7 linked regions of the Homo sapiens genome follow. The protein of the gene in region 1 purifies or fractionates together with the protein of each later gene. This does not show direct contact. Each region holds a gene or a part of one and is shown in the gene's direction. Other genes may lie near its edges. The genes, in order: LYZL2, TTC17, LOXL2, SULF1, CNTNAP3, PCYOX1L and MGAT5.

Region 1 (4,105 bases):
GGGATAAAATGGTACCCATAGAAATGGTTGTTCTGAGGACTGATGGAGATTTTGCGTGAAGAGATTTAACATGTGCCTGACATAGAGTAAGATTTCAATAAAGTATTAGCTAGTGGTAATAGCTGTTATTATCCTAAATATTTATATCTCAAGAAGATAGGCAAAAGACTTTTTTGTTGTTGTTTGTTTGATTGTTTGTTTTGAGATGGATGTTTGTTTTGAGAGGATGGTCTCCATCTCCTGACCTGGCGATCTGCCCGCCTCAGCCTCCCAAAGTGCTGGGATTATAGGCGTGAGCCACCGCACCAGGCTGGCAAGAGAATTTTATAAGCTGATATAGCTTTAGTTTTCACTGTAGAACTATAAACCAAATGCTAGTGAATCTGCGTATGTTGTTTCAATTGCTATCTCTTATAGACGATGTATTTTGTTACTTTTTCTCCTGGTTAATAGAATTTTGTTTCAAATAAAAATTAAGCCACATTTAGAATAAATTTGCTTAAAAAAAATCTATCACTACGTTTATCTTCTAGTGAAGCCTAACTGAGAAAGCAACAAAATTAGCAACTCAAGGAAATAGCATGCTCAAGGAAAAATTCCACTTTCAACTGAGTTAACAAAATAATTTGGAATTACAATGCCTTATTGAAATGCAACATTTTATGCTAACATTATTTTTGGTTATTTTTCTGGTAATAAAAGTAGTACATTTCAATTGTAAAAAATTTTAGAAAATATACAGTAAAGACATAAAAGCATTGGTGAACCCACAGTTAAGAGCCAATCTTTCTTAAAATACTGGTGAATTAATGACTATCTTTTTTTTTCTAAACCAGTGCTATCTAATAGAACTTTCCATGATGACAAAAATGTCTTCCATCTGTGCTGTCAAACAGAACCACTAGCCATGAGTGGCTATAAAGTATCTGAGATGTAGCTAGAACAAATAAGGAACTAAAGTTTTAATTGTCTTTAATGTTAATTAATTACAATTTTTTATATTTTTCCCAGCTTTATTGAGGTATAACTGACAAATCAAAATTGTATATATTTAAAGTAAATAACATGATAATTTGATATATTTATACATTGGGAAATGATCACTACAATTGAGTTTAACATTACCTCACATAATTACTGTGTGTGTGTGACAGAGTGTGTGTATGAGAGACAGAGAGAGAGAGAGAGAGAGAAGAACACTTAAGATCCACTATCAGCAAATTTCAAGTAAGCAGTACAGTATAATTAACTATGGTCACAATAGCTTACCTTAGACCCCCAGACCTTCCTCACCTTATAACTGAAAGTTTGGACCCTTCCATCAGCATCTCCCCATTTTCCTAACCAGCCACCGCTCTACTCTCTGCTTTTATGAGTTCAACTTTTGTAGATTTTGCATATGCGTGAAATCATGTGGTATTTGTCTTTCTGGGTCTCACTTCCTTCACTTAGCATGACGTCCTTCCGTTCTTCCATGTTGTTGCAAATGTCAGCATTTCCTTCTTTTCCATGACTGAATAATATTCCACTCTCTATATAAACATATTTTTATCCATTCACCTGTCAACAAATATAATTTTAATTTAAATTATCACATGTTGCTAATGCCTGCCATATTGGCATTAGCCAATACAGCTCTCAATGGATATTTTTATGATATTGGGAACTTAACATTGCATTGGGAGCATTTCTCCATATTATTAAATATCCTGGGAAAACATAATTCAAACAGCTCTTTATTTTATTAAATGAAGGTATTATGACTAATTTGAATATCACTGATTATGAGGCAATTAGATTTTTTCATTTTAACTCTTGTAAATAATGCTATAGTAAACCACTTTGTAAAGAAATATTTGTCTAGTGTCATGACTATTTCCTTAGGATAGATCTGGAGAGAGAAATTATTAGGTGAAAGGATAAAAACCTCGTTAAGGCTCTAAACACATGCTGCTATGTTGGTTTCCTGAGACATTGAATCCATTATACTCCCACCAGCAAGTATCCAGAGAACCTGCCTCTCTGTGCCCTTGTCAACATCCAGCATTACCCAATTCTCTTAAAAAAAAAATCTTTGCATAATTGACAAGCAGTAATGAGATCAAGTGGTTTGAGTATTTTTGTCCTTGATTGGTGGTTGTGGTGGTCATGGAGATGGGCCTCCCAGATCCCCTGCTAAGGGAAGACATGCTGCCCCCGCTGCAGTTGTGTGATGAGCAGACAGTACCTGCCACCTGCTTCAGGATTGGCTTCAGGTGCAGGTTGCTCCCTTCCGGGGTGACCCACACCCATTGACGTGTGAGGCAGAGGCATTCAGACCTGGCATGTGGGCCTGACTTGGGCCACTCTGATGGGCAGTGCTCACTCGGGAGCTCATGGCTGGGCTGCCCAATGAATTGCTGGGTCTGCGTCACAAATGGACATCTCCGTCTGCCCATCCTGCTTCCCCCCAGCCGATTCCTTTCATAGGTGTGGATTGCTGAAAATATCTGGCATTTCAAACCCATCTCAGCATCAGCTCCTGGAGGACTCAACTTGCAGTAGAAGTAATGTTGAACTTGTTTTGTTTATTTGCCTTTTTCTGTCATGTTTGTGTTGAGGATTTTGAGGCCGCTTCTAAGCAAGCAGGAAAGAATGTGGATATCAACTAATACATTTCAATTCAAAGATTTGTTATGTCTGAAGCAATAGAAAAAATAATAGGTGGCGGGGCATGGTGGCTCATGTCTGTAATCCCAGCACTTTGGGAGGCCAAAGCCAGAGGATTGCTTGAGCCCAGGAGTTCCAGACCAGCCTGGTGAAACCCTGTCTCTACAAAAATAAAAATAAAAAATGGTCAGGCGTGGTGGTGCATACCTGTATTTCCAGCTATTTTGAAGGCTGAGGTGGAAGTATTGCTTGAGGCCAGGAGGTTGAGGCTGCAGTGAGCTATTATCATGCCACTGCACTCCAGCCTGGGTGACAGAGTGAGATTCTGTCTCAAAAAGGAAACAGAAAAGGAAAAGTAATAAAGACAAAGACTGGTGTATTTGATTTAAAAGGTAAAACTTTCTGCACATGAAAAACACCCTGGATAAAATTTTTTTAAGACACAAACTGAAAAATGACAATAGACAAAATTTAATATTTACCTGTAAAGAAACCTTACACGTCAAACTAACCCAAATACAGAAAACACTATACTATCCTGTCTTATGTGCCTTTTTTTTTTTTTTCTTAAGACAGAGTCTCACTCTGTTGCCCAGGCTGGAGTACAGTGATGTAAACACAACTCATTTCAGCTTTGACCTCCTGGGCTCAAGTGATTCTCCCACCTCAGACTCCCAAGTAGCTGAGACCACAGGTGTGTGCCATCACACTAGGCTATTTTTTTTACATTTTGTAGAGATGAGGTCTTGCTATGTTGCCCAGACTGGACTCAAACTCCTGGCCTCAAGTGATTCTCCTACCTTGGCCTCCCAAAGTACTGGGATTGCAGGTCAGCCACCACGCCCGGCCTGTGCCTATTTCTGTAGGACATAAGGAACATTTTCACATAGCGTCTTCTCTAAACACATTTCCAAAAACCCTTCAGGATTGGGCTCTTCCTCTGAAATGTCAGGTAGTGCAAGATGAAGATGGTCTTAAAACAAAAGCAAAGTTCTTTTCATTATGAAGAAGCTCAACAGAAATGAGATTGTGGCTTTGCAGGGAAAATTATAGTTCTTCCAACCTTCCCATCCCAAAAAGACTGAGAAAAATGAAGTAAACTTGAGTTGGGGTCCCTCTCCAACAACAAAGTCTCGCCTAACCCTGATGACCTCTCTTTTTACAGCCTTGGTCACTGATGACCTCACAGATGCGATTATCTGTGCCAAGAAAATTGTTAAAGAGACACAAGGAATGAACTATTGGTAAGAGTCTTTCCTTGGAAGACTTGGGCTGTCATGGGCAAAACCTAGTGTGTGTATTTATCACAGTTATGGTGGAATTGACAAACTCACCTCCGCAGAGTGGTCCAACCAATGGAAGGAGACCTTGTCTATATTCTCCTCCATCAGTGTGTGGGTGTGCAGTGAACATAGTAGTACATAGAAAGGGAGCAGAGACATGGGAGTGAGTTAAG
Region 2 (4,105 bases), on another chromosome or scaffold:
TGAGGAAAGAATAAGCTGTGGTTTTAAATCCAACCAAGCTGTCTTTTAGCTCTGAAAGCACCAGACAGAAGTTTTTCAACATATATGAGTGTATTAGTTTGCTAGGGCCACTAGAACAAAATGCCACAGACAGGGTGGCTTAAACAGCAGAAATTTATTTTATCACTGGTCTGGGGGCTGGAAGCCTGAGATCAAAGTGCTGGCAGGGTTGGTCTCCCCTGAGACCTCTCTCTTCGGCTTGCAGTTGGCCTCTTGCTGCCTCTTCACATGGTTGTCCCTCTGTGCACACAGGACCCTGGTGTGTCTGTCCTTCTTCTAGCTCCTTCATATAAATCCAGTCATTTAGAGTTAGGGCCCCACTCTAATAGCCTTATTTTAACTTAATCATTGCTTTAAAGACCTCCACATACAGTTACATTCTGAGGTACAGGGGATTGGGACTTAAAAATATGAATTTTGGGGGAACATAGTTCAACCCATAGCAGTGATCTCAAAGAATATTGTTCCCATGAGCCGTTCTTGAGGAAACTATTAGAAGATGAGCTTTAGCCAACCAGGAGATGATTGGGAAAACCACACAAAAGTAATGTCAGTGACCACTGATTATATTCAGCTGTAAAACCAATACTAAAAGGTGAGGCATAGAGTGATAGGTCAGAATGTAAATACTATACGCCCTGAAAATGTAGAATTATAAAATTAACAAAAATGTTATTGAAAACACAAATCAGACAAGCAGTTAAGTTTTCTGAGTGCCTCTTCTGTAATGGCTGGGAGTCAGAGATCATCAACCAAAAGTTGCAAATGAAATAGATTTTAAAAATCCAAAGTTAGACCTAAATTCAAAATTCAACCTAAATTAAATACTGTATTTATATATAGTATAATATATATATTACTTTATATATAGTAAAGGTAGTATCTCAGTGGGGAGAGAGGTGAATTATTAATTAAATTTTGAGACAAATTAGTAGCTATCTGGAGAAAAATTAAGTTGGAGCCATATCTTTTACTTTACAGCAGATTAAATTTCAAATGGATCAAATATTTAAATGTAAAAAATGAAATTATAAAAATTCTGTAGGGGAAATGGTGAAATATTTATTTCTTTTGCTTTTTAAGAGACAGGGTCTCACTCTGTCTCCTGCAGGCTGAAGTGCACTAAGTGGTGTGATCATAGCTCACTGCAACCTCAAACTCCTGGGCTCAAGCGATCCTCCTGCCTCAGCCTCCTAAGTAGTTGAGACTACAGGTGCACACCATCATGCCCAGCTGTATTTTTTATTTTTTGTAGAGACAGGATCTTGCTGTGTTGCCCAGGCTGATCTCCTCTTGCCTTGGCCTCCCAATGCACTAAAATTACAGCCGTGAGCCACCAAGCCTGGCCCAGTAAAATTTCTTTATATCCTTGGAATGAGGTAGGGCTTCCTAACTACAACTGAAAATCCAGAAGTCATTGAAGATCACTAAAAAACCAAATTCTGTAGCAATCAAAATCTACATCACACAAAGTACCATAAGTCCAAAGACAGACTTCAAACTCGGGAAGCTTATCTGTAAATCATAGGCAAGGATGATCTCCCTAAAATATAAAGAACTTTTTACCAACAGACAAGACAAAAACCTCACAGAACAATTAACAAAATATGAATGCAAATAGTTTACAGAAAAGACGTTCAAAAGGCTAACAAATATGGAAGAATGGTCAACTCTACTCATAAGAAAGGAAATGCAGATTAAAACCACATTTCTCACCCATCAGATTGTCAGGGGCCTAAGAGTTTAGTAACAAACTCTGTGATGGGGCTATAAGGAAATGGTGATACTTAGATATTTCTGGCAGGAGATTAAATTGTTATAATCCGGGTGGGCATGGTGGCTTATGCCTGTAATCCCAGCACTTTGGGAGGCCGAAGTGTGCAGATCACCTGAGGTCATGAGTTCGAGACCAGCCTGGCCAACATGGTGAAACTCTATCTCTACTAAAAATACAAAAATTAGACAGGCGTGGTGGTGCACTCCTCTAATCCCAGCTACTCGGGAGGCTGAGACAGAAGAATCGCTTGAACCTGGGAGATGAAGGTTGCAGTGAGCTGAGATCATTCCACTGCACTCCAGCCTGGGCGACAGCGAGACTCTGTCTCAAAAAAAAAAGGACAAAGGAAAGGAGGGGGGAGGGGGGAGGTGAGGGGAGGAAATTCTAGAAGGAAACGTAAAAAATTAAAAATAATGTTTACTTGTCTACCATAGAGACGAGGATGGGAGAGAGACTTCATGGTATAACTTTGTATACTTCCTGGTTTTTGAAACGTGTGACTGTGTTACCTATTCAGAAAGTTAAATAAAATAGAACATAGATATGAGATATAGTTCTGCTATTCAGTAGTTGAGTGAACTTGGGCAAGACACTTAAGCTCTCTGAGTCATAGTTTTCTCATTTATAGAAGGGCTGTAATAGTAGTATCAAGCTCACAGGATTGTTCTAAGGATTAATGAAGGACAGGTGGAACAGAAAGTGCTGAGCAGAGTGCCAGCACTTAGTAAATACTCAGTTGAATGGTCATGACTTGTGTTACTGAACTTAATCTTGGTAATAAATGAGTATGTTCTTGAAAGGACACCAGCCTTGGCTAACATTCCTTTGCAGAACCAGACGTCCTGGGTCCTCTCCAGCATGGCAGCCCTCTACTGGAGGGTGAAAGGCCAAGGAAAGAAGGCAATCGACTGCCTCCGCCAGGCTCTGCACTATGCGCCACACCAGATGAAGGTGAGTGGGACTCAGAAGGTGGGAACTTCTGCCCCTTTGTCCTTTCCATTCCCCATGGTTTATTCTGCCCTTTGAACCAGCCTCCCTCATGCTCAGCCAGTGAGGACATATTCCAAGGAGAGAATGGGGCAGGAGACCTTCTGACTGGGCTTGTGCCCCAGCAAGCCTATGAACTATCCCTGCTGCCTTCCCAGCTTCAGCAGGTTGGAACGTGGGGAAGGCCTTCCAGATCACTGTAAGACAGTACTGCATTTAGTCCCCTTTCTGCTGTGTTCAGAGCCACCCAACATACAGCAAATGCACTGGCCTAAGTGGGCTGACACATAGAAGTCAATCTGAATTTAGCTTGTCATCAGGGGCCTGGTGACCTCTTAGACTTGTTTTGCTTATCCTCTTGGCTTGAGCTTGCTTCCAAGCACAGAGATAGAAGCAAATTTCCATTTATTCATGTACATTGGCCAGTTCCTGGTCCTTGTCTGACTTCTACTTTTTCCACAAAAAAAAAAAAAAAAAAAAAAAAAAAACCGGCTAACCCTGTGTGACACCAGACTTTTCCAGAAGACCGGTTATTGTTATGATGGATGAGAAAATACAGTGTTTTATCAGCACATTTGTATTCATGTGTTCTGAGTTCTGCATTAATCCAGATCTTATGCTTTTTAAAGACATGGCTGGTGTCTTCTTTGTTCGTCAAGGCAATGTATGGAATGATGGAAGGAACACAGGATTTATTGTCAGGCATTGCTGAGTTTTAAACACAGCTCTACCTCTTACTAGCTTTGTGAATTTGGGCACCTTATTGAACTTCAATGAGCTCATCTAGAGTCATGCATTCTATGGCTGTCACAAAGATGGGTCCTTTCTGTTTCTTCTGTGTCTGCTACAGAACCCAATATGGCATGATACAGGTAACAGTTGCTCAAGTTAGACATTTAAAGGGAATGATATTTGTGATGATAGCAATCTTGCTACTTGTTCCATCCATCATTTTGTACTCTATACTGTTAGGCAATAGGGAAGGGCTGAGGCTCTACCTCTGGGAGTCAGCAAACTTCCCGAAAAGGGCAAGAGAATAAAACACTTGGACTCTGGAGGCCAGACAGCCTCTGGTGCACCTACTTAATTCTAGCATTGTAGTATGAAAACAGCCACAGAAATACGTAGAGGACTGGGAATGATTGTGTCCTAATAAAACTTTTTTCAAAATAGGCAGGAGACTAGGTTTGGCCTATGGGCCAAAGTTTGCCAACCCGTAATGATATAATGGTTCTTGCAGAAATTATTTTGGCTTTCTGACAGCATGACTCTAAGTGTGGTCTGTGGACAGTACACAGACTT
Region 3 (3,967 bases), on another chromosome or scaffold:
ATCGCCAGCCAGGCCTCTGCTTGCAAGCAGCAGTTGCTCCAGAAACTGACCTCCAGGCCATCTCTCTCTCGCTCCAGGCACTACCACAGCATGGAGGTGTTCACCCACTATGACCTGCTGAACCTCAATGGCACCAAGGTGGCAGAGGGCCACAAGGCCAGCTTCTGCTTGGAGGACACAGAATGTGAAGGAGGTATCTGAGCGGAGTGGGGGGATGGGAGGCCTCAGAGGGACTCGAATGCCTCTGCCTCCACGATCACCTGGCTGGAGCCCAGGCCTGGCACTGACCCTGTGTCACTCTGACCACTGCCACCTTTCCCCACCTGGACCTTCCTCAGCTATAGTGAGGCGCTGGGGGCATGGGCATGACCTGGTTCCAAGGGCACCCGGATTCCCCAGAGCTGTGCTGACAGGCACTGGTCGGTCCACAGGGCCTCCTGGACAAGATCCAGACTCTGGGGACCCTGCTCCATCTGGGCTTAGCAGCCTAGACCCTGATGCGTATGCCCCTCCCACTCTGGCTGCCACCAACCTTTTTTCTGGTGTCCCAATGCCAAGTGTCCCTACCACACCAGGTGTCACCCTTCAATTATATCTCAAATGCCCTCCTCTGAAGCGCCCCCCCGTCCCGGCAGGTGTGGCACTCTGCTCACACTTCTGGTAGGTCACCACACCTGCCCTGTGATCACCTGTTAGTGCACCTGCAGCCCTGGGGGCTCTTCATGGGGAGACATGTCAGTTCTTCTTGCTAGACCCACTGTTTACAGCAGTGTCCAGGCATGGCAGCTTCTCAGTAAATGCGTGTTTAATTTGTTATTCATTGAAGCGGCCCGCCACTGACTTGCCGTGAAATCACACAGCAGACAGGTGTTGACCTCTTACCATGTGCAGATAACATGTAAGTGTCAGAGAGACATGGGCCTACACTCTAATTGCCGATCCTCCAGAGGAGACAGACAGTATGACCCCCCACGTTTTGCTAAACCACAGGCACCAGAGATTTCCTCGGTCCACACACACGCAGTTATCCCCAGGCTGAGGATGTCACAGAAAGGCCAGGGTGGATCAGAGTGGTCAGGGAGGGCTTCATGGAGGAAGGGGAACTTGAGCCTGGCCTGAGAGAAGAGGCAGGATGTGGGTAGGGAATTGAGTGGGGGGTTCTACTGAAATGAGAACAGATGAGCAGCCCACACAGTGGGGTGGGATGCCGAGCCCAGATGAAGCAGCGGTAGGGGCCTTGGAAGCAGGAAGAGGGTGCGGCAGTGGGGCCATGGTTCCCTGGTGATGAGCTCTCCTCTACCCTGCCCGCAGACATCCAGAAGAATTACGAGTGTGCCAACTTCGGCGATCAGGGCATCACCATGGGCTGCTGGGACATGTACCGCCATGACATCGACTGCCAGTGGGTTGACATCACTGACGTGCCCCCTGGAGACTACCTGTTCCAGGTGAGGTGGGTGGGAAGGGGTTCCAGCCCTGCAGGGGGAGGAGGGGAGGCCACCTCCACAGGCTCCTTCCCATTGGTGTCCACACAGGGGCATGGAAGTCAGGCTGTCTAAAGGGCAAGGTGCTACCCCCAGAGGCCATCACGGTCCATCAGTTAACCCAAAGATATCAGGCATGGGGGCCTGAGAAATAGGGCGTGCACAGGACCAGAGACACCACAGGCATTCACATTTGATTGAGTTAACACCTGGTGCATGCAAATCAAAACTCATCAGCAGGCTAGATTTGCTCCTCCGGCCAGTTTATTCCATACATGCTCAGGCAACCCACACCTCTTGTCTCCTATGGAGCTCTTGTCTCCACCATCCCCATTTCTCCTAGTGCCCTAGGCTGCCTTGGTCTGTGCTTTCAAGACTGAAAGCAAACTCATAAAGAGCCAGTCACTTGCAAATATCTGTGACTTAGCTCTTCCGGAAATATCTGCCTCATAGAGGAGGATCTGCAGAAGGGGCCATTCTCAATGCAAAGTGAATCTATAAGAATAAAATACTGAACACGAGACACAGCCTGGCCAGGTGACTTCTTTGTCAGAGGGGTTGCCGAGATTTGTTTCCACATACTCTGGGTGGAAGGCCAGCCCTGAGGAGGAACAAGGGGGCCTTGGCTTCCCTCCTTCCTGAAAACAGCGGCATGTTCTGGCCAGGGCTCTAACTGGGGGAGAAAAGGGGCATTGTGTCCCTAGTGTCTCTCCCAGTGCACGGGTACACGTAGCCTGCAGAAGCTTTATCTCACCCTCTCACTCTCTCCTACGTCCTCACCCATCTCGTTTTCCAGCTTGCCCTGTTGGCTAGCAAAGTGGATGACCAGAAATGTGTCATTCCACCTTGAAAGCTTTCCTGAGGGGGCATTCAGCCAGCCCAGGGCCTGGCCCACGGTCCCCACCTACAGACAGTCCTCTGAAGAAACAACACCTTCAGAGAAGTCACCACAGAGGGGCTTTCAGAGAATTCCTGGGCAGTTTCAGAGGCTGGAAAGCAGACAGCCAAGCACTTTTCCACCCACAAGCCCAGAACCACAGACTTGGAGAGGCCTAACCAGAGAGTTATTTATTTTAAAAGATGAATAGCCGTGGCCATGTGCACGTATACAGTGCCTGGTGGTTTCTGTTTGAGGTTTGCTATCATTTTGCTGGGTGAGTGTGTATCTCCCTGTATTCTGGCCAGTGCCATCCACTTAATAACTACTATCAATTGCCTAAGCCTGGGGAATGCATTGTTTGATTTAATCTCCCAAGGAAGGGGCATCATCATTACCCTCATTTCACGGCCACCCAACCCCAGACATATCAACTCTTTATTTTGTTTTCTCAACCCCTAAACAATACAATTAGCAAATGGACTCATTAGGGGCATGTTAATACCTCTGATTAATCAAAAAGAACATTCCCCTTAAGATAGACATGGAGCTTCTTTAGGTGCCACAAGCACCGGCCTGGGGACTCACGGGACACAAGAGGTGGTCTTCACTTCAGACATCAGTGGTGCTGTGAAGGACAGGAGGAGGGAGCTGGGCGAGGAGGAAGTGACCGTCCACGCAGAGGGACCTGTGCAGAGCTCAGAGGCAGGGGTGAAGGGGCCTCCTGGCTCCTGGTGGCCCCGCTTTATCCGCTTTCTCATCATTTCCTAGATTCACAGACATACAGAAACCTAAAGCCACTTCCCGCAGGCCCTCGTGAGATGTCGGTCTGCAGTAGATGAGTGGGGTGAAACAGTGGGGGACACACATTTCCAGCCCCGCCTCCACCCCACACGTAACACTGGCCCTCGTGTCCCCAACACGAGCCCTTGCTGCATCCAGCCGCCCTCACGGCTGCACTGTCGAGACGCCTGGGCGGCCAAGGAGCTGCCTAGGCCTGCACAGCTGGAGGCCTTGGCATGTGGAGCTGTGTTTGCCCCATGCCATGTGTGGGCCAGGAACGAGGGGGCAGCTAGAATGGTTGGGTGGAAAAGAAAAAACTCAAGCCGCCCCGGAGCAGGGCATGTACCTCCTTAGCTAAAGGCACAGGGCCCCAGCGGGACACAGCTGAGCCAGGTGCAGGCCCCCAGAACAGCCCCGCTGGGCCAGAGCAGAGGGCCGGCTGCCAGGCTGGCCTTGGCTTCCCACAGCACCTCTTTGGGCAAGCCCAGCGGCCTGCTAAAGGTTCGTGTCCAGGCCCTTCTGGGGCCCCAAATTTAGAGAATGTTCCTGAACGAGCAGCCTGTACCCGCCCCCCTGCTGTGGGTCGCAGCCCTTCCAAATGTGGCAGGACCCTCGAGGGAAGGCCTGTCATCTGTGTCCTCTGCCCCTCTGTTCACCACTGTTGTCTCTTCTCCCTCTCCCTCCCTTTCTCTTTTCTCCTCGGGTCCTCACCGTAAACCTCCCCTTTTCTGTTCCCTCACAGACACTCTCCCAGAATATGTCCTTCCTATTCCTGCTGTAGCTGGGGGGATGCGGATACAGGGGTGGGTGGAAGGATGGGGAG
Region 4 (4,105 bases), on another chromosome or scaffold:
CCCAGGTTGGAGTGCAGTGGCACAATCTTGGCTCACTGCAGCCTTGACTTCCTGGGCTGAAGCCATCCTCCCACCTAAGCCTCCCTAGGAGCTGGGATCACAGGCATGTGCAACCATGCCCAGCTAATTTTTGTATTTTTAGTAGAGACAGGGTTTCACAATGTTGCCCAGGCTGGTCTTGAACTCCTGACTTCAAGCAATCTGCCCGCCTCGGCCTCCCAAACTGCTGGGATTACAGGCATGAGCCACTGCAACGGGTCCCAGACTTACATTATTATCTATTAAAATGTTACTGAAATATGTACCCAAAAAGCTATGTATAAGTTGTTTTATGTTTGTATAGCTATAAATACACATTAGCATAATTCTATTTATACTATTAAAATTTCAAAATAAGTCTCTAAGGATAAACGAAACCCATACACCAATAATACTCTAATTCATATTAATCCTCTTTGCCAGATGATGCTGTTTTGCTGAAACTAAAGAATAAATTTGTTTTAACTAAGTATTCATTAATGAAATTGGAAAAAACATTTTAACAAAAGGAATTTCTATTGCATATTAAGAATTACACCTGTTTATAAGGAACTGTTACAAGATGGCACCTATAGAGAAGAAAGGATCCAGGCAATCAGTCCTCTGGGGTGGAGATTTTGGAGCTGAGAACTGTGAGGGCCAAGTCATCCTATCACCCTTCTCTATTCTGGGAAACAAACAAACCTTCATACAACACAGCAGGAAGTATTTGACTCTCACGTGCATACACATATCAGCAGGAACTTAGGCTGCCTCTGTTCTTTCTTCAATAGCCCATAACAATTAAATTATTATATGATTATACCACACATTATTATTATTTATTTTTTTAAAGACATTCTAGCTCTGTTTCCTAGACTGGAGAGCAGTGGTGTGATCATAGTTCACTGCAGCCTCAAACACCTGGGCTCAAGTAATCCTACCGCCTCAGCCTCCCAAGTAGCTGATATTACAGGTGCACACCACCACACCCAGCTAGTTTTTAAATTTTTTGGTTGAGATGAGGGTCCCACTGTGTTGCCCAGGCTGGTCTTGAACTCCTGGCCTCAAGCAATCCTCCCATCTCAGCCTCCCAAAGTGCTGGGATTATAGGCATGAGCCACCTCACCTGGCCTACACATTATCATTTTAATGATGAGAAATCAAAGTCTACATTTATAAAATTTAAGAAAATTCTGGTCTCATTTCATGAAAATGTCTTTTGATTGCAAATATGCAAGGAAGGTTGTATCTTTATTACTGGTCTAAAAAAAATCAGTCCAAGTAATAATGATTGCCGATGTTTATTGAACCCTTATTTTGTGCTAGGTCGTCTTGCAAGTTTTTCACATGAATGTTTTCATGTAATCCTCACATCAACCCTATGGGGTAGATACCATTTTAAATTCCCATTTGTCAGAGGAGAATACTGAGGCATAGAGAAATTAAGTAATGTGCTCAAGGCCACATAGCCAGTGAATGCCATAGCCTGGTATTCCGGCATCTCATTCCAGACTCAGCTGCCCGGTAGCATATTCAGAACAGTCTCAGAAAAGGTATTCTTTGACATCAGACTGTGCCAGCCTAACCACAGCCAGATACTTTTGACATCACATTCAGATGTAAACTTTCACTGTAGGAGATCATGAGGTGCACATACAATTATAAGCACAAACATGTATATGTCCTCTCAGAACATATTTTACAAGTGGGCATCTGCATGATGCTTCTAATAATTTGTGATATCAGCACCATGGAGACAGGATGGAAAAGTTCTTCTAGAACTCCCCAACCCCCAGGAGGAGAAGCACAGTGAAGCGAGTGATCTAGAGGCCTAATGGGTGAGGTGGGCCACATTGCAGAGGGTGGCATAAAACTAGCGGCGGCGGAGTTTCACTGCTGTTTGGAGTGGAAAGAGGGGTGATGAGAGTCGTGTGGGAGGAAAGTGAATCCTGCAGCACCAGGCCAGCTCCAAGGAGGCACTGCTGCAGCAATCTTGTGGTAGGAGTGATCCATCCAGAGCAAAGCAAAGGACCTGGGGCTTAACCTGACTCGCCAAGGCCAGCTCAGGATAAAAAGAGATTCCAGGCCTATGGAGGGAAAAAATCTGCACCCATTACCTCTGAGATCCCCCCATATGTATACGAAGGTACAACTGTAGTCACCAGTGGAAAAGTATGAAGACTTTAAATGAAATGCTTTATTAAACATTAATATTTACATGGGCATGATCAATATTTTTTAAATGTGAAGGAAATTCTGAGTTGTTAAATAAGAGGTCTCATTTCCTTATTCTATCTTATATTATGTTCTCTTTTATATCATATGCACATTTACATACAGTATGTATATGTCAGATGTTCATGGCAGCAAGATTGCTTCATTTGATACTTAAAACATTAAAATGGGAATTTCCTCATATTCAAAGTGTTCAAATTTATTTTAATCACTTACATTTTTCAGCTGTCAAAAATGTGGAATATAAACAAATTTTACCACTTGGAAATGCTTACTTTGCTAGTCATCAAATAATAGCTTGCTGCAACTTTAAAAGATTCCATGATTCAGCGCGTTTTCCTTTAAAATAGGTCTCCCAACCTGAAATTAGACAGCACTCAACCTTTAAACTTGGAACACTTTGTAAACTTTTAAAAGGAAACTCTTCTTTAATGGTTCTATGAAATCCAGTCAAAGAATGATATGAAATGAATCTAATGGAAAGTCTTTTCCTTGTTGGAGAAGCAGTCAAAATAGAAACTTCTACAAAAGGACCGAATCACCCACAATGCTTCAAAGACTCTTGCGAGTGATTGTAAGAAAATCGGTCTGGATGAAATTTAGAGAATATTGTTCCTAATGATCACCCCCTTTGAGGCTGTGAAAGGGCAACATCTGAAAGATGAGAGGAATTGCTGATAAAACGTAACTGATGGCAATTTTGCTCTTTTCCATCGTAGGTGCTGACGGCCACCCACCATCATCTAAAGAAGATAAACTTGGCAAATGACATGCAGGTTCTTCAAGGCAGAATAATTGCAGAAAATCTTCAAAGGTATTCATCAAATTTTTATCTCTAGCTTAAACCAAGGACCACCTGGGCACTCTATGTCACTTGAAGAGGGGAACATTTCACGGTTGGGGAATTGTTAAGAACTGGCAGAAACTGAAAAGTCAATGGTCCTCTACCTTCCCATCACATTCTCATTCTTGTTGACTGAGAGAGCTAAAAGGGGCCTTCCACGTGGTAGAGCCATGTCACGAAATCAGTCCTAAGAAATGTCAGAAGAACCATCTGAAAAATGGGAATCTAAACAATCATATGACTATTGACATATTATGAGCTGCTCAGGAAGGAAGCTCAGGGGAATTAGGGGGCAGTGTGGTAGGCCCGCCATGCACAGCCATCCACAACATACTCCACAGTGTCAGGAGTGAAAGCTGTACAGATATCTGATTTATTCACAGCTCGTCTTCACAGTTTCTTTCCTTGGCCAGATAAACATTAGTGCCAAGAGCTTTCATGGAGCCAGGGAGAGTTGTGGCAACCCATCTCAGCAATTTCACCTTGGTGGCAAAAACATTTCTAGGGTTTGGGTTCATATGAGGGTACAACCTCATGAGGCTTTTTCAAATGTCAACTTTGAGAGTTGCTCCCTTTCACCCCTAAAAACTAATGCAATGAAAATGTTCAGTTCCTCTCTATTTCATTAGTCACTCTTCAGAATCATTGCTATTTGCTTGATTTTTTTTTTCTTTTCTTTTTCTTTTTTTTTCTTTTTTTTTTTTTTTGAGAGGAAGTCTTGCTCTGTTACGCAGGCTGGAGTGTAGTGGTGTGATCTTGGCTCACTGCAACCTCCGCCTCCTGGGTTCAAGCAATTCTCCTGCCTCAGCCTCCCGATTAGCTGGGATTACAGGCGCCTGCCACCACGCCCAGCTAATTTTTGTATTTTAGCAGAGATGGGGTTTCACCATGTTGGCCAGGCTGGTCTTGAACTCCTGACCTCAAGTGATCCACCTACCTCAGCCTCCTAAATGGCCGGGATTATAGGCGTGAGCCACCACAACCAGCCTGCTTGATTTTTATTCT
Region 5 (4,754 bases), on another chromosome or scaffold:
TATTTTAATAGAGACAGGGTTTCACCGTGTTGGCCAGGATGGGCTCCATCTCCTGACCTCTTGGCCTCCTCCGCCTCCCAAAGTGCTGAGATTACAGGCATGAGCCACTGCACCCGGCCAAGTTCACATTTTTAAAGACTCCATCTGATGCCTGACAAATTGGTATAATAATAGATTGACATTTGTTGTTTTACTCTAGGTCCAATTTAGAAAATGATTTCCATTTTCTCTCTTTCTGTCTCACTGAAGGCAACTGATCTGTCAATCAAAACTTTAGATTTATAATTTTTTCTGTAATAAAAGACGTGCTATTTACAGAGTTCTTGTGCAAAAGTAGTTTAAGTGAACCCAATTAATAATTCAAGAATGACTTTGTAAGATTCTTCATCTATTACATTTGAATTCATTTTACATTTTACATCTATTACATTTGAATTCATTTTAATGAAAAAGCCTTTCAAAGTTGTCTTTCTAAAGGGAAGATTAATACACTATTTCTTAGAGATACCATCTAAAAAAGTATCTTTCTTTCTTTTTTCTTTTTTGGAAACTCGCGGTGGTGGTAATGTGAGTGAGTTTGTCAATCTTTGCCCCTACTGTGAATTTGAGAAGCAGAGGAAGAGAAAAAGAGAAAGACCCCCCCCCCCGCCCCCTGCCTCCGCCCCTCCCTCTAGCACACAGTAGGCGCGCAAGGAGTGCAGTGTTAGCTGCTGCTGGACTGAGCTCCTCATCCTACACTTGCAGGGGTTGCTCTTTTGGACAGAAAGCTGGAATAAAACGTAAATTTTAGACTTCCACCAAGGCCAGGACTAGGGTGAAGGGACTAACGCACTAGTCTCAGGAGCAACTGTTAAGTAACGCTAATCCTGAATGAATGAAATAGTTTTAAAATTGAATGTAATCGCAAAGAAAAAAAAACCCATGATAGACAAAATATTAAAACTTTAAATAAAGGCTTGCACTCGCACAACCCAGGCTCACCGGCCTCTCCCTGCTCCTGGCCCGGTTTCCCAGCTTGGTTCTCTACAAGTCAGAATTCCTAGCAAAATCAAAGTGTGCGCGCGTCTGCCCAAGTACACGCCGCAGAGTTATTTCTGCCCCATCTTCCCTATTTGAACTCAAACAGGACAGCATTTTCCTGGGTGCAGCCCCTGCGTTGGGTGAACAGCGCAGTGATAAAGCCTGGCGTTCTCCACCTGCAGGCGGAGGCTGACGGCGCGGTCTTTGGCGCGAGTCCGTGCACCGCGGCCGCCCCGCCCCGGTGGGAGAGAGGGACGGAGGAAGCTGCCGGTATAACGGGAGGAGAGCGCCAGGCGGAGCTGGGGCGTCCCTCCCGCTCGCTTCTTGACTCGCGTTGCTGCCGGCCGCCTCCCGCGCCTAGTGTCCGGGACGCGCCTGAACCTGCCGCCTCCGTGCCTGGGGTGGCGCCGCGCGGCCCCGAGCGCTCCAGAAAGCTGCGGCGCGAGTCCGCGGGGCCGACCTCGGAGACGCAGCTGGGGCCGGGCGCGGCTTGGCGGGAGGGTCTGCAGCGCCGAGGGAGGCTGCTGGTGCGTGAGGAAGAGAGCTAGAGACTGGACAGGGGAGGCAGAGCAGCGTCAGAGCCGCGCAGGGGACGGGAGTGAGAGCAGGAGCGACGCAGAGCGGCCGTCGCCGTGCCCGGGTCTCAGGGCGCCTGGCTGAAGTGAGCATGGCTTCAGTGGCCTGGGCCGTCCTCAAGGTGCTGCTGCTTCTCCCCACTCAGACTTGGAGCCCCGTGGGAGCAGGAAATCCACGTAAGTACAGCAAATGGTTTAAAACTTGCGCTAGGCTGTCTGGAAAACTTTGTTTTTTTTTTTTTATTATCGGTAATATTTGGAAGTGGAATTGCAGAACATGCTCCTGAACATGAAGAACCTTAAAAAAAATTTGGAATTGCAACCCGAAAAAGACGATTTTGTTTACAATAGACTTTCCTCTTGTGGGGGAGTCTAAGATATACCATGCATGTTTTGACTTTTTAATCGATGTACTTGAATATTCATTGAGAAAGTGGACGTTTCTGTAAAACCTGAAAAGCATCTTAATAAGAGATTAGCGTGCAAATGCTGTCATTTATTCCTTTTTAGGATTGTAATATTTTGTAGGAATTAAGTCTAACAGGGAAAAAACTGGCAGACATTACATCATACTGCATCAACTTAGATGTTAGCAGCTTACAGTTTTGCCGACCTTGGCAGCTTCAGAGTTAAAATGCTAATTAACTTCCATGCAGTATAGGGACAGAGCGCCTGTAGGTGAAACTAAATTAATAACCTGTCCTAACTACTAAGGGAATAACACTTGAACACCCCTGTCAGGGGCTTCGTTTCTCATAGTAGAAAGTTCTTGCTTAAAGACAAAACTCAGCCAGTCATTTAGGTGATCTTGAAAATGATTCCTCTCTGGATGCTAATATTTTACATTATTTAATTTGCCATCAGGTTCCCTGTTTTTTATTTTCCTTAATTTGGTAAACACCTAGGAAGCCTTTATTTCTAGAATGGGCTATGATTCTAATGTAATGATGATATTCCAGACAGATGAGCAAAACATAATGTACCCATATTTTATCACACATAAAAATGTTTACACAACATTGCACATTTTTTTTTTGGCTTGGAGTAAATCTCTAGCAGAGAGTTGTCTTTCTTTCTTGATTAATCAAACCATGAGATTAGAATTTTTAAAATGTCTTCCTCTTCCTTCTCAAATCACTTTTATTTTTCTTTCAGTGGCATCTCCCCGCTGTCAGCCTCAGCCCTCTCCTACCAAAATCTCTTTCGAAATAAGTTCCAATAAACGCCAGTGGCCATGTTTGGAAATTTAGATTATTGCAGGATAACCAAGGGTAGCTTTCAGCAGTTCTCCTAAGCTGTCATGAAAAGTTTGCCGTAGCTCAGTGCTGTTCTGCCCGCGGGCTCAAGGGTGGGTTGGTTCTTCACACACAGGGCACGCACATGGGTTCATGAACTCACTGTGCATCATGATTCAGTTGCGCCTCAGTTAATCCTACACTTGGTGTGCCCTTCCAAAAAACAAGCTCCGGATTCCTTTGGTCAGATGCTGTACCGTGTTTCAGATTCAACTTTAATCTGCTTTTGTGAGAAGGCTTTGTGAATAAAACGTTGTTACTTAAATCAAAATCCTTGGGTCTTGTAATGGAAACTGCCGTTTGGCTTAAACAAACATATAAATGAGCTACTTATAGAAAGGCATGCTAGAGTAATTGACCAATCAACTGGCAAAATACAACAACAAAAAAAGTCACTAGAGGTCACTCTTACTATTGAATAAACAGGGCTTCAAAAAGACCTTCCTGGAGAAAAGCAAAGCAATGAAATCTGAGTGAGACCCTGCCACCACCTTTCCTGTTTTTGTTGCATAGTTGTGATTACTTTTTATTCTCAGGATTAGTTGTATTGGTAGTTATTTTGCTTGGAATCCAGTGGAAGGATTACAAAGCCCATAGAAATTAAGCTCTTCTCGTTTATAGTGAACATTCTTTTTGGAGGAGGGGAGGGCAGGGACAGATATTCCAAATGGACTCAGCACCAGACGGGACTCTCGCGAGTTGCTGAGTGACACGTGAAATTTCAATACTACTACTGTGGGTGTTTTCAGTCTTCTTTCGTTGATGAAACTTAGTATCCTCATATCTAATAAATTTTACTAATTTTAAATTACCTTTTAGATCAAGTAATTCTTCCAGATAAAACTATGTAACTGTAATAATTATACCACCTTCAATACCAAGAAGAAAGTCAATAAGGACATCTAAAAGTTTCCTTCTCATGTAGACACCATGAGTTGCTCACGTTATTCACAGCTGGTTTTCGAGAAGCACATTGGCCACCCACGAAGGCAACCTGTTGATGATGGCATGAAATGGCTCTTCATGGGAAGAGCTCTATAGGCCGGGCACAGTGGCTCGCGTCTGTAATCCCAGCACTTTGGGAGGCCGAGGTGGGTGGATCACCTGAGGTCAGGAGTTGGAGACCAGCTTGGCCACCATGGTGAAACCCTGTCTCTACTAAAAATACAAAAATTAGCCGGGCGTGGTGGCAGGCATCTGTAATCCCAGCTTCTCGGGAGGCTGAGGCAGGAGAATCGCTTGAACCTGGGAGATGGAGGTTGCAGTGAGCCGAGATCCCACCATAGCACTCCAGCCTGGGCAACAAGAGGAAAACACAAAACTCTGTCTCAAAAAAAAAAAGCTTTCTAAACATTTGGCATTTTGGGGATTATGTGCAGTTTATCTGAATGTTATTTGACCCGACAAATACATGGGAAAGCTTTGTTAGGAAGATTCTGCATGAAGGGAAATATTTTCCTAACTTCAGTGCCCATAGACTTGCAGTGAGTGAAAGGTCACTTACTGCTCTCATTGAGTCCCTGAAAACAGCAGGAAGCATCAAGAGAAAGATTGAACGCTGGGCACTGATCCCAGGGATACACAAACAAATGGCTGGGCAGATTTTGCAGAAATTCCTGTAACTGGTAAAATGCTGAGTAATAGCCTTTGATGTAACTTTTCAGTGGGTTAATTTATTCATTACTTAGCCTAAAACACTTTTAATTTTAATTGCCTCAATTTTTTCCCCTAAATGGTTATGTTTTGCAAGTTCGCCAGCCAGCCTGGGGAAAGAAGGGTAAGCCTACTATAGAGTGTGTGTGGGTTAGTTAGGAAACTCACTTAGATGTGAAATGTGTCAGGAAAGAGATCTCACAGAGTGTAG
Region 6 (4,841 bases), on another chromosome or scaffold:
AGTGCTTGTTTTAAAAACTGTTTAAGGGAGTATCTTGAACCTTTGGAAATGAACTTAAAAGGTGTTGCATCCTGACACAAACATTGCCAAAAAAAAAAGTTTAAGATTATGACAAATGCATGATTATTCATCTACCAGTTTACTAGTAGTAATCCAGTTTGGCCCAAGTAAATTAAGTCTCAGTGCTGAGTTAGAACCCCAGCTATAAGCTCTTTCACCATTCTCTGAATCACTTCAGTTTTTTGTTTTTGTTTTTGTTTGAGTCAGAGTCTCGCTCTGTCACCCACGGTGGAGTGCAGTGGTACAATCTCGGCTCACTGCAACATGTGCCTCCCAGGTTCAAGCGATTCTCCTGCCCCAGCCTCCCGAGTAGCTGGGATTACAGGCGCACACCACCAAGCCCAGCTAATTTTTGCATTTTAGCAGAGATGAGGTTTCACCATGATGGCCGAGCTGGTCTCGAACTCCTGACCTCAAGTGATCTGCCCACCTCGGCCTCCCAAACTGCTGGGATTACAGGCATGAGCCACTGTGCCCGGCCCAGTTTCTTATTTTAGCCATAATCTCACTGAGTAAATATGGATTTCATTTATTTTTATATATTTATTTATTTTTAAAGACAGGGACTCTTGTCACTCAGGCTGGAGTGCAGTGGCACAATCATAGAACACTGTAACCTCAAACTACCGGTCTCAAGCCTCCCACCTCTGCCTCCTGAATAGCTAGGACTACAGGTGTGCACCACCACTCCTGGCGAATTTTTTTTTTTTAAGAGACGGGGTCTCAGAGTCTCATTATGTTGCCCAGGCTGGTCTCAAACTGCTGGCCTAAGCGATCCTCCCGCCTGACCTTCCAAAATGCTGGGATTACAGGCTTGAGCCACCCCCAGCCTCCGGATTTTCTTTATTCTGAAACTCATCCCTAACTTTATTTTCTGCCAGAGGAAGTCTGTTTTTCACAGCGTGATAAACTAGCAAGTCTGAGCTGCTGCTCTTGTCTTCTTAGAGGATGAAAATGGGAGTTTATCCCTCCTTTTCTCCTTTCTGAAAAGAGAGTAGATGAAACCTTCCCCCGCCTTTTGGTTTTTAGGAAGCAGAAAGCAGAGATATTAACTATATAAAAACTGCAAACACATAAATAACAGCAGTATAGAAAGCATAGGGCTTGTGTCAGCATATGAATGAGGTAGCGTCTTACCACCCTGGCCGCATGCTTGGTCAGCAATTTCCAGCACTTGCAGACACTGCAAAAGGCTTCCCTTATCTCATAAGATGGTTACAACCACCTAGAAAGGTGGAGCAGGATTCTTCGTCTGTGTTATAATAGAGGAAACAGACACAGAGAAGATACAGAGCTAATAACGCAGAGGCTGGACATAACCGAGGTCTTCAAAGCTTCACTTTGGTCTGTTTCATCCCTCTGCCGCAGCTGGGCCCTGGTCCTGATGCTGAGGACCCGAAGCGGGCACACCTGCGCCGGGCAAGAATGAACCCAGCCAATGAGGAGCCCGCATGCGGGGGGCGGGGCGGAACGGGGAAGCTGCCAATGAGAGAGCCTACCCCGAGAGAGATGGAGCTAATGAGGGCCTCGTGCTGGAGAGGGACGGCGGCTTGGCCAATGCGGAGCTGGGTCTGGCGCGGCAGGAAGGCGGGACTGCCAGTGGGGCGCCGGGGCGGGGCGGAGAGCCGAGCGCCAACCCGCTAGCGCCTGAATCCGGCGTGCTGCCCGCTCGCCGCCCGCCATGGCCCGCGCAGCCCCGCTGCTCGCCGCGTTGACCGCGCTCCTCGCCGCCGCCGCTGCTGGCGGAGATGCCCCGCCGGGCAAAATCGGTGCGGGAAGGACGCGGTGGGGTTCCCAGCTGGGGAGGGCCGGCGGGTAAAGGGTTCTCAGTTCTCAGCTAGGTGGGGTATAGGAGGGCGGCTGGGTGAGGGAGGGGTCCTCGGAAAAGGAGCTGGGTGGAGGAGAGGCGCCGAAGGGGACGCGGCAGGGAAGGTCCTGATGGGGCCGGGGCATGGCATGTGAAGAGGGCCACCTAGGACGGAAAAGAGGCCTGGGCAGGACTGGCCGCGGATCTCACCGGGAGGTCCAGGGTCGCTGAGCATCTGCCATGGTCCTGGCTGTTGGCTAGGCGCCCGGGTGACAGAGGACAGAGAGGCTGGGCGATGGCATTCACAGAGGTTGGTTGAGGGCTCTCTGTGTAGCAGACGTGGTGCTGTAGTTCCTGCTGGGGTAGAGCCCTCACAGTACAGGGAAGTCCGTGCTGAGCTGAGGAAGTACGGTGCATGCAGAGGAGGGGCGCTTCACCCTGTCTTTGCGGCCCTGGGAGGGCTTCCTGGAAGTAACATCTAAGCCAAACCACCCCCAGGTCGATAGGAGACAGTCCTGGCAGAGACAGAACACTAGGTCCGCTGGAGATTTGCTGACAGAACGGGGAACTTTTAACAACAGTCTTTTTGTTTATTGTGTGTGTGGTTTCCCCAATACTTTATTTTGAAAATGTTCAGATGTACAGCAAGAATTTTATAGTGGTCATCTGTATACCCACCACCTACATTCTGCCATTAACTGCTGCTATACTTGCTGTGTCACATAACTATCACGCACTGTTCTAGACATCCACGAATCCAGCCTACATTTTGATGCATCTCCAAATAAATTGCAGACATCAGGACACCTCACTAAATACGTCATCGTGCATATCATTGACTAGAGTGTCATATGTGTTTACAGTTGCTTTTTTTTTTCCTCCCTCAACAACTGTCATTTTAACTACATGACTCGTGAAGATTTTCAAGTCCCTCACACGTGATATTCCCACAGGCAGAGATCCTGGGCTTCGGGGTGGGAGGACAAAGACTCTATTCCGCTAGGCCACTCTCCATGCACCCCAGTTGGCAGGAGTGCCTGGAACATCTGATAGAAGCATCACAAACTTACAGGGTCCAGTGCAGTGCTAAAGCTTCTTGTGTAGCAGAACCACAGCCCAGGCCATACAGGGTTAAGAAGACTGAAGCATGCCAGAAACCAGTTTGAGACTGAGAGTTTAGTGCTTGCCAAGAAAAGAGAATCCTGAGGCTAGAGTAGCCAGAGAAGCCCTCATGGAGAAGGTGGAGTTTGAGCCAGGCATTGAAGGATGTGGAAGAGTTAGGCAGGCAGTATCCATGAGTGACCATGTGTTCTCTCTCTGTCCTTAGATCGTTTGAATACAGTGTGGCTAGGAGTAAGCAGAGTGTGCTGTGGGAATATGCAGGGCACTCCCCGTTTTCTTAGGAACAGGCAACAGGACAGGACATTTCTCACCATTGGGGAAGGAGCAGGACCTCCACCCAGCAGAATTGCTGCATTGTGGCAACATGGAGCTCTCTGCCTCCTTCCTCCCAGCTGGCCCTTCTGGCCCCATCCAAGAGTCATCCAGAGCAGGACACTTGGCAATGCCTCACTGCCCTTCAGCTTTCTAGATTTTCCTCAGCCCTCTGACGGGAGCCTCTGTTCATCCTTGGTGGTTTGGACTCTACCCACAACAAGAATGCGGATTCCTGTTAGGATGGCTTAATGCTTGTGCTTCTGCAGGACCAAATCTGAGAACCCCCAAGTGGCATCAGGACCCTCTAAACCCACCCATATAGTTCCATATGCTGCCCTTCTCATGCTGGTCTCTTTGCAGAGTGTGCGTGTCCTCTCACTGACAAAGCTGATTGTCCTCCAGCATCTTGCATGAAATCTTATTTCCCCAAGAAGGCTGTGTCCCCACACCCTCTGGGGCAGAATTCACTGCTTCCCCTTCAGGACTCCCTGGAACCCTGTTGCACTTCATCATGGGTTGTCGTTGCTAATTGCGCAGGAGTCTGTCTGCCCATTCCATGCTGGGGTCCTGGGGGACAGAAGCCTGTTTGATTTTTCTTTGTGCCCCAGGACATCTTACTGTAAATTAGAGAATTGGTGTCAGTTGTGTTAAATGAGCTGGTTCACAATGAAGTGGTGTCTTCTGCTTCCTGATCTTGGGCAGCTTCTAGGCCTTAATATCAATTTCTCTGGAAAAATGGGTAATTTGGGACTCTTTGCACATGGAGGGGATGGGAGCACACTGGTTAAAATAAAATCCAAAGCTGTCTTGGAAGTGGCTTTGTAAGTACTGTGAGAGGAAGTGGTTTATTCTTTCAACACAGAAAAAATACTTCATGAACTCTACTGTCCACCAGGATCTGGGGACATAGTGATCATGCACTCTCTCTCTGTCCTTAAATAACTTGACTACAGTACGGCTAAGCAGAGTGTGCTGTGGGAATATGCAGGAGGAACACCTGACTCACCTCAGGTGGGTCAGTCAAGCCAAGTTATAGGTGACATCTGAGGGCTGTTGAAGCCAGTGAGACACAGGGTGATGGCACTCCTATCAAAGGGAACAGCTCGGACAAAGGCCCAGGCATGAGAGAACAAAGCTATGTGCCCACAATAAGAGAAGCCTAGACAGACAAGAAGGTGGCATCTTGGGAGGGTAAAGCAGGAAATGGAATAAGTAAGCAGAGGCCAGATCATAGAGAACCTGGTGCTGTCTGAGGATTGCCTGTGACTTCTGGCAGGAACTGGTACTCTGTGGGTCCAAATGGGTCCAGTAAGGACAAATTACACCAGATTTATTTAATTTTCTTTTGGGGTAAGGCCTCTGGACTGTCTGATGAGAAGAGAGTGGTGTTTCAGATACATGGTGAGCAAAAATTATAGGTAGGGTGGTAGTCCAGTTCAGTAGCTTCATAGCTGGTTTATAGTTCTCTCACAGGACTGTTTAATGATTAGTGTCAGGTGAGGCACAGTGGCTAATGCCTGTAATTCCAGCACTTGGG
Region 7 (4,068 bases), on another chromosome or scaffold:
AACAGGCTGTTGGGGGAGTGAGGATGATGTAGGGAAGGTGGGGCATGGTTTAATAACCCCTGGGCCATGCCTAGATGATCAGTCCTCTGCCACATAGCTGGCTGACCTTTGCCAAGTTAATCACCTTTTACCTTTATTTTCTCATGTTTCTAATAAAACAGAGACGATAATATTCATACTTCTTACCATATAGAACTTCTGAGGATTCAGTGAGCAAAGCCACAAAAGATGGTATGTCACAATATCTGGGATATAGCTAGAATTTATAATTTATTTTTACTCTGTTGATAGGCAATGGGAAAACAGTAAGAGGCAGACCAACAGTGATCCAGGGCTCTGAAAGCTAATTGCTTCAAGATCCTGCTACCATTTTCTTTTGGGCCGCTTGCAAAGAAGAATCCTTTGACTGAAGCATGTATGTACACTCTGAAGTACAGCCTGGGTTAGTCTCTTATAAGGGATCGGATCATTGCTCAGCCTCTCCCTTGAGTGGCACTTAGAAAATGGCGCTATTCGTAAGCTGACTGGTATTGGGCCCAGGACTCTGGCTGAAGGGGTGGGCATGCTGGTAACCATTTGCAACCTATGCTCAGGTCCTACTTGTTGGGAAGCCCTGATTGAGAAGAGTGGCCTGGTCTGTGCTGGCATTAGATAGGATCTGGCTGCATTAATATTGAAACTACTCTGCCTTTTAATGTCTCATTTTGCCTCATGGTGGGAGTGAAAGTGAGAACCACAGAAAATCTGCCTGCCAGGTGTTCCACATTTCTTGTGCTACAGCATGCAAGTGAGCAGTGAGGTGTACCTTTTCCTCATGTAGCTGGGAAAGCAATACCCCTGCTTGTACCTCTGGCATATCTTCTCTGTGCTGGTGCACCTAGAGAGGTTGCCTGGTGGCCCTGAGAGAGCCATCTCATCACTAAACACTGATGGTGAAAGCTGGCCATGCTCAAATAAGATGTAGCAATCTACCTCTTCTTTGTCTAGTTACCCCCAAGGGGGCATCCACTTTCTTGCTCACCTCACCAGTTGCATGTTCTAGTCCTTGCCAGAAGCACATAATAATGACTTTGTAAGCTTAAGTTACAGGCACACAAAAGGGCCTGATGGTGATATGACTCCACCCTCCCCGTTTTTGCTGACATTCCGCCAAATATCCTTCTGTCTCCTCCCCACCTTGCAAAACAAACTTCCTGTTTTGAATTTGGTCCAGGCTGGAACAGCCCCACTACACCTGTTAACACACGCAGACGCACACTTCCCCCTTCATAATTGCTTAGCTTCTTGTTGCCTAGCCAGATTTCCCCTCAGCTTACAGTTCCTGAATCATAAGATATTGAACCAGCAAATTTAAGAGTTGACATTTTACTTAGAGGTATTCAAGTGAAAACATGGCTTCTGGTTTATTTTGCTGTATTGTGCCATGACCACTTGGCTAATTCTTCTCCTCCTTCACAGCAGAATGGAAGTGAGGAAAGGCAACCAGCTGACACAGGAGCCAGAGTGAGACCAGCAGACTCTCACACTCAACCTACACCATGAATTTGTGTCTATCTTCTACGCGTTAAGAGCCAAGGACAGGTGAAGTTGCCAGAGAGCAATGGCTCTCTTCACTCCGTGGAAGTTGTCCTCTCAGAAGCTGGGCTTTTTCCTGGTGACTTTTGGCTTCATTTGGGGTATGATGCTTCTGCACTTTACCATCCAGCAGCGAACTCAGCCTGAAAGCAGCTCCATGCTGCGCGAGCAGATCCTGGACCTCAGCAAAAGGTACATCAAGGCACTGGCAGAAGAAAACAGGAATGTGGTGGATGGGCCATACGCTGGAGTCATGACAGCTTATGGTAAGCACTGTTTCTGGGACCTCTCCATTAAAGTGTGCCTTGGCCTTGAAATGGCCCTAGAAGCTCCCAGATATGGTCTTGTCATGGACTGAATGTCCTTTGCCACTGCCTTCATAAGCAGTGAATTGCACACAGAGAGGCATCTTTAGGAAATTAAAGCAATGCCATTTTGGGGGTTCTGAGCTGGTGTATGCAGACACACTTTCCCCTGGAGTCAGTGGGTTAGTATAGTTAGGGCTCTATTGGTTGTGTTTGCAGCTAGCTCCTTCTCCCTGAACACATTTCAGGAACCATGTGATCTCATGTGGGAGTGAGTTCAGGGAATGCTGAAAAATATTCTCATCTTTCCCTAAACAAAACTTAATTAAGGCTGGTGGGGGTGAGGTGAAGAGGATGGGGAGGAATGTTCTATGGAAGCCAGTAAACTTAGAGCCAATTGTGTTCCTCCCTCCAGCCAATAAATATGACACTGGCACTTGCATGCTGGTGAGTTTTAACCTTTGGCTTCTTGAGGTTATGTTGCTCTTCTTCTTGCCCTTGTCTCTAACTGCCCTCACTTTGAAAGGAATCTTTGTGTACTTGTTGCTTTTTCTTTAAAGAATTTTTTTCAGAATTCTTTTTGAAATCAGAAAGAGTAAAAAAATACACATATGGGATGTAACTTATTTTTCTTTTATGTTTAATATAGAAAAAGTTGGAAGCTGTAGACAAGCAAAAAAAGAAAAAAATTACACATAAGTCTACTACTCCAGGCAATAACCACAATTAACATTTCAGTGTGTATTTTTCTGATACTTTGCATACACACACAAATATATATATACATATATATACATATATACATATATATACACATATATACACATATATATATACACACACATATATATATACATACACATACACACACAAATACTTGGAAAAAAATTGCAAATGGAATTTAGATCATGCTGTGTTTTGCAGAGCAGACTTGGTCTGTAGAAGATGACCTGTTGTTGAGTGACAAGAGTCTGATCATTGAATTGAGGTTTCAGTGGTCTCACTGAAGTGGTCTCCCTGATAGTATAGATGAGATGCAAGAATGGGGTTAGGTGAGGTGGAGAAAGTGGAGTTGTGTTTTGTGACCCACTCAAGGAAGGTGCCCTGAAGTATGCCGATTTCAAATCGTGATTCCCAAAAATGTGCAGCAACAGTTCAGTTCAGTGCAGGTTGAGTTCAGACACAGGAAATCATACTCAGTTATACATGTGCTTCTTTCTTTCCAAAAGGGGAAAAAAACTTGTTTTTAAAAAAGTATGTAAAATTTTATACACACGTATGTGTATGTGTGTGTGTGTATGTGTATATATTAGAAGATGCTTACTTCTGAGGAACATTTTAGAAATTCTTTTCTAGTTCTTACTATGTAAATAATCACACTCTGCATTTAATCTGTTAAAAGTGTCTGTAGGCATTGGCTTTTAATATATCTAAAAAAATGGTACCTTTTTTGAACTGATGGATTTAAAAAATGAGATTCCACTGTGGGAGCTTACACTGAAAAGTAACTAGGTAGTTTTTCCTAGAGTTGCATTTTAAAATTGCTCATTGACTCACATTTGTGTAACATTTCCAGAGTAGTTTAGATAAACCAACAGAAAATAAAGCTGATTGTCACCATTAGTGTTACCAATGTATATGACACAGCAGGTAACACAGGTGCAGTTTTAAAGTTTCTGGTTGTATGCATTTCATGTTACAGCTTTGAAGGGAAAGAGTTACAGCTCAGTGGTAATTTTCTCTTGTTTCTCTCAGTCTGTCAAACCTTTTCCATGGGCAAGAAGAAGCCCCACAAATAGCAAATTTATAGGCTTTAAATTTCTGCAGTTGTTTTGGCTGTTTGTATTTCTTGTGTATTGATGAAAATCTCATAGGGAAGGCTTCCCCACATTTTAAAGGACAATAATTTGGTCTTAGCTTTTCAGCCTCACAGAAATATTATTTTTTAAGTTACAAAAAAATCCCAGAATAGGCTGTTAGAATTTCAGCCACCTTATATGCCTGTAATCATAAGACTTTGCATCTCAAAGAAACTATAGAAATTATTTATTCCAACTTACTTTCGTAGATGAACCTTAGCAAAATAATTTGTCTTTTTCTCAAAAACAACAAAGAAACAATCAAACAGGTCACATCAGCAACTCTAACTGACACTGCTAGTTTTCTCTTTCATCGAATCAACTTTAAC

Evidence for each region.
Region 2: the proteins of LYZL2 (region 1) and TTC17 purify together in Homo sapiens (affinity purification with mass spectrometry; 2 studies listed by BioGRID and IntAct, with this or other methods). This does not show direct contact.
Region 3: the proteins of LYZL2 (region 1) and LOXL2 purify together in Homo sapiens (affinity purification with mass spectrometry; 2 studies listed by BioGRID and IntAct, with this or other methods). This does not show direct contact.
Region 4: the proteins of LYZL2 (region 1) and SULF1 purify together in Homo sapiens (affinity purification with mass spectrometry; 2 studies listed by BioGRID and IntAct, with this or other methods). This does not show direct contact.
Region 5: the proteins of LYZL2 (region 1) and CNTNAP3 purify together in Homo sapiens (affinity purification with mass spectrometry; 2 studies listed by BioGRID and IntAct, with this or other methods). This does not show direct contact.
Region 6: the proteins of LYZL2 (region 1) and PCYOX1L purify together in Homo sapiens (affinity purification with mass spectrometry; 2 studies listed by BioGRID and IntAct, with this or other methods). This does not show direct contact.
Region 7: the proteins of LYZL2 (region 1) and MGAT5 purify together in Homo sapiens (affinity purification with mass spectrometry; 2 studies listed by BioGRID and IntAct, with this or other methods). This does not show direct contact.

What each region holds. Positions count from the first base shown.
Region 1 is NC_000010.11:30,612,610-30,616,714, reverse strand, and holds part of LYZL2 (lysozyme-like protein 2 precursor), read left to right. Parts: intron 1-1,293; exon of another isoform or gene 1,294-1,468; intron 1,469-3,814; coding exon 3,815-3,893; intron 3,894-4,105.
Region 2 is NC_000011.10:43,487,592-43,491,696, forward strand, and holds part of TTC17 (tetratricopeptide repeat protein 17 isoform 1 precursor), read left to right. Parts: intron 1-2,647; coding exon 2,648-2,767; intron 2,768-4,105. UniProt on the Homo sapiens protein: Plays a role in primary ciliogenesis by modulating actin polymerization.
Region 3 is NC_000008.11:23,299,508-23,303,474, reverse strand, and holds part of LOXL2 (lysyl oxidase homolog 2 precursor), read left to right. Parts: intron 1-77; coding exon 78-193; intron 194-1,311; coding exon 1,312-1,448; intron 1,449-3,967. UniProt on the Homo sapiens protein: Mediates the post-translational oxidative deamination of lysine residues on target proteins leading to the formation of deaminated lysine (allysine).
Region 4 is NC_000008.11:69,498,899-69,503,003, forward strand, and holds part of SULF1 (extracellular sulfatase Sulf-1 isoform 1 precursor), read left to right. Parts: intron 1-2,975; 5' UTR 2,976-3,070; intron 3,071-4,105. UniProt on the Homo sapiens protein: Exhibits arylsulfatase activity and highly specific endoglucosamine-6-sulfatase activity. It can remove sulfate from the C-6 position of glucosamine within specific subregions of intact heparin.
Region 5 is NC_000009.12:39,284,998-39,289,751, reverse strand, and holds the start of CNTNAP3 (contactin-associated protein-like 3 isoform 1 precursor), read left to right. Parts: upstream 1-1,584; 5' UTR 1,585-1,687; coding exon 1,688-1,772; intron 1,773-4,754.
Region 6 is NC_000005.10:149,356,328-149,361,168, forward strand, and holds the start of PCYOX1L (prenylcysteine oxidase 1-like isoform 1 precursor), read left to right. Parts: upstream 1-1,718; 5' UTR 1,719-1,741; coding exon 1,742-1,829; coding exon of another isoform or gene 1,830-1,845; intron 1,846-4,841. UniProt on the Homo sapiens protein: Likely to have oxidoreductase activity. Required in the mevalonate pathway to regulate prenylation and enhances the bactericidal activity of neutrophils.
Region 7 is NC_000002.12:134,252,804-134,256,871, forward strand, and holds the start of MGAT5 (alpha-1,6-mannosylglycoprotein 6-beta-N-acetylglucosaminyltransferase A), read left to right. Parts: upstream 1-1,268; 5' UTR 1,269-1,600; coding exon 1,601-1,841; intron 1,842-4,068. UniProt on the Homo sapiens protein: Catalyzes the addition of N-acetylglucosamine (GlcNAc) in beta 1-6 linkage to the alpha-linked mannose of biantennary N-linked oligosaccharides.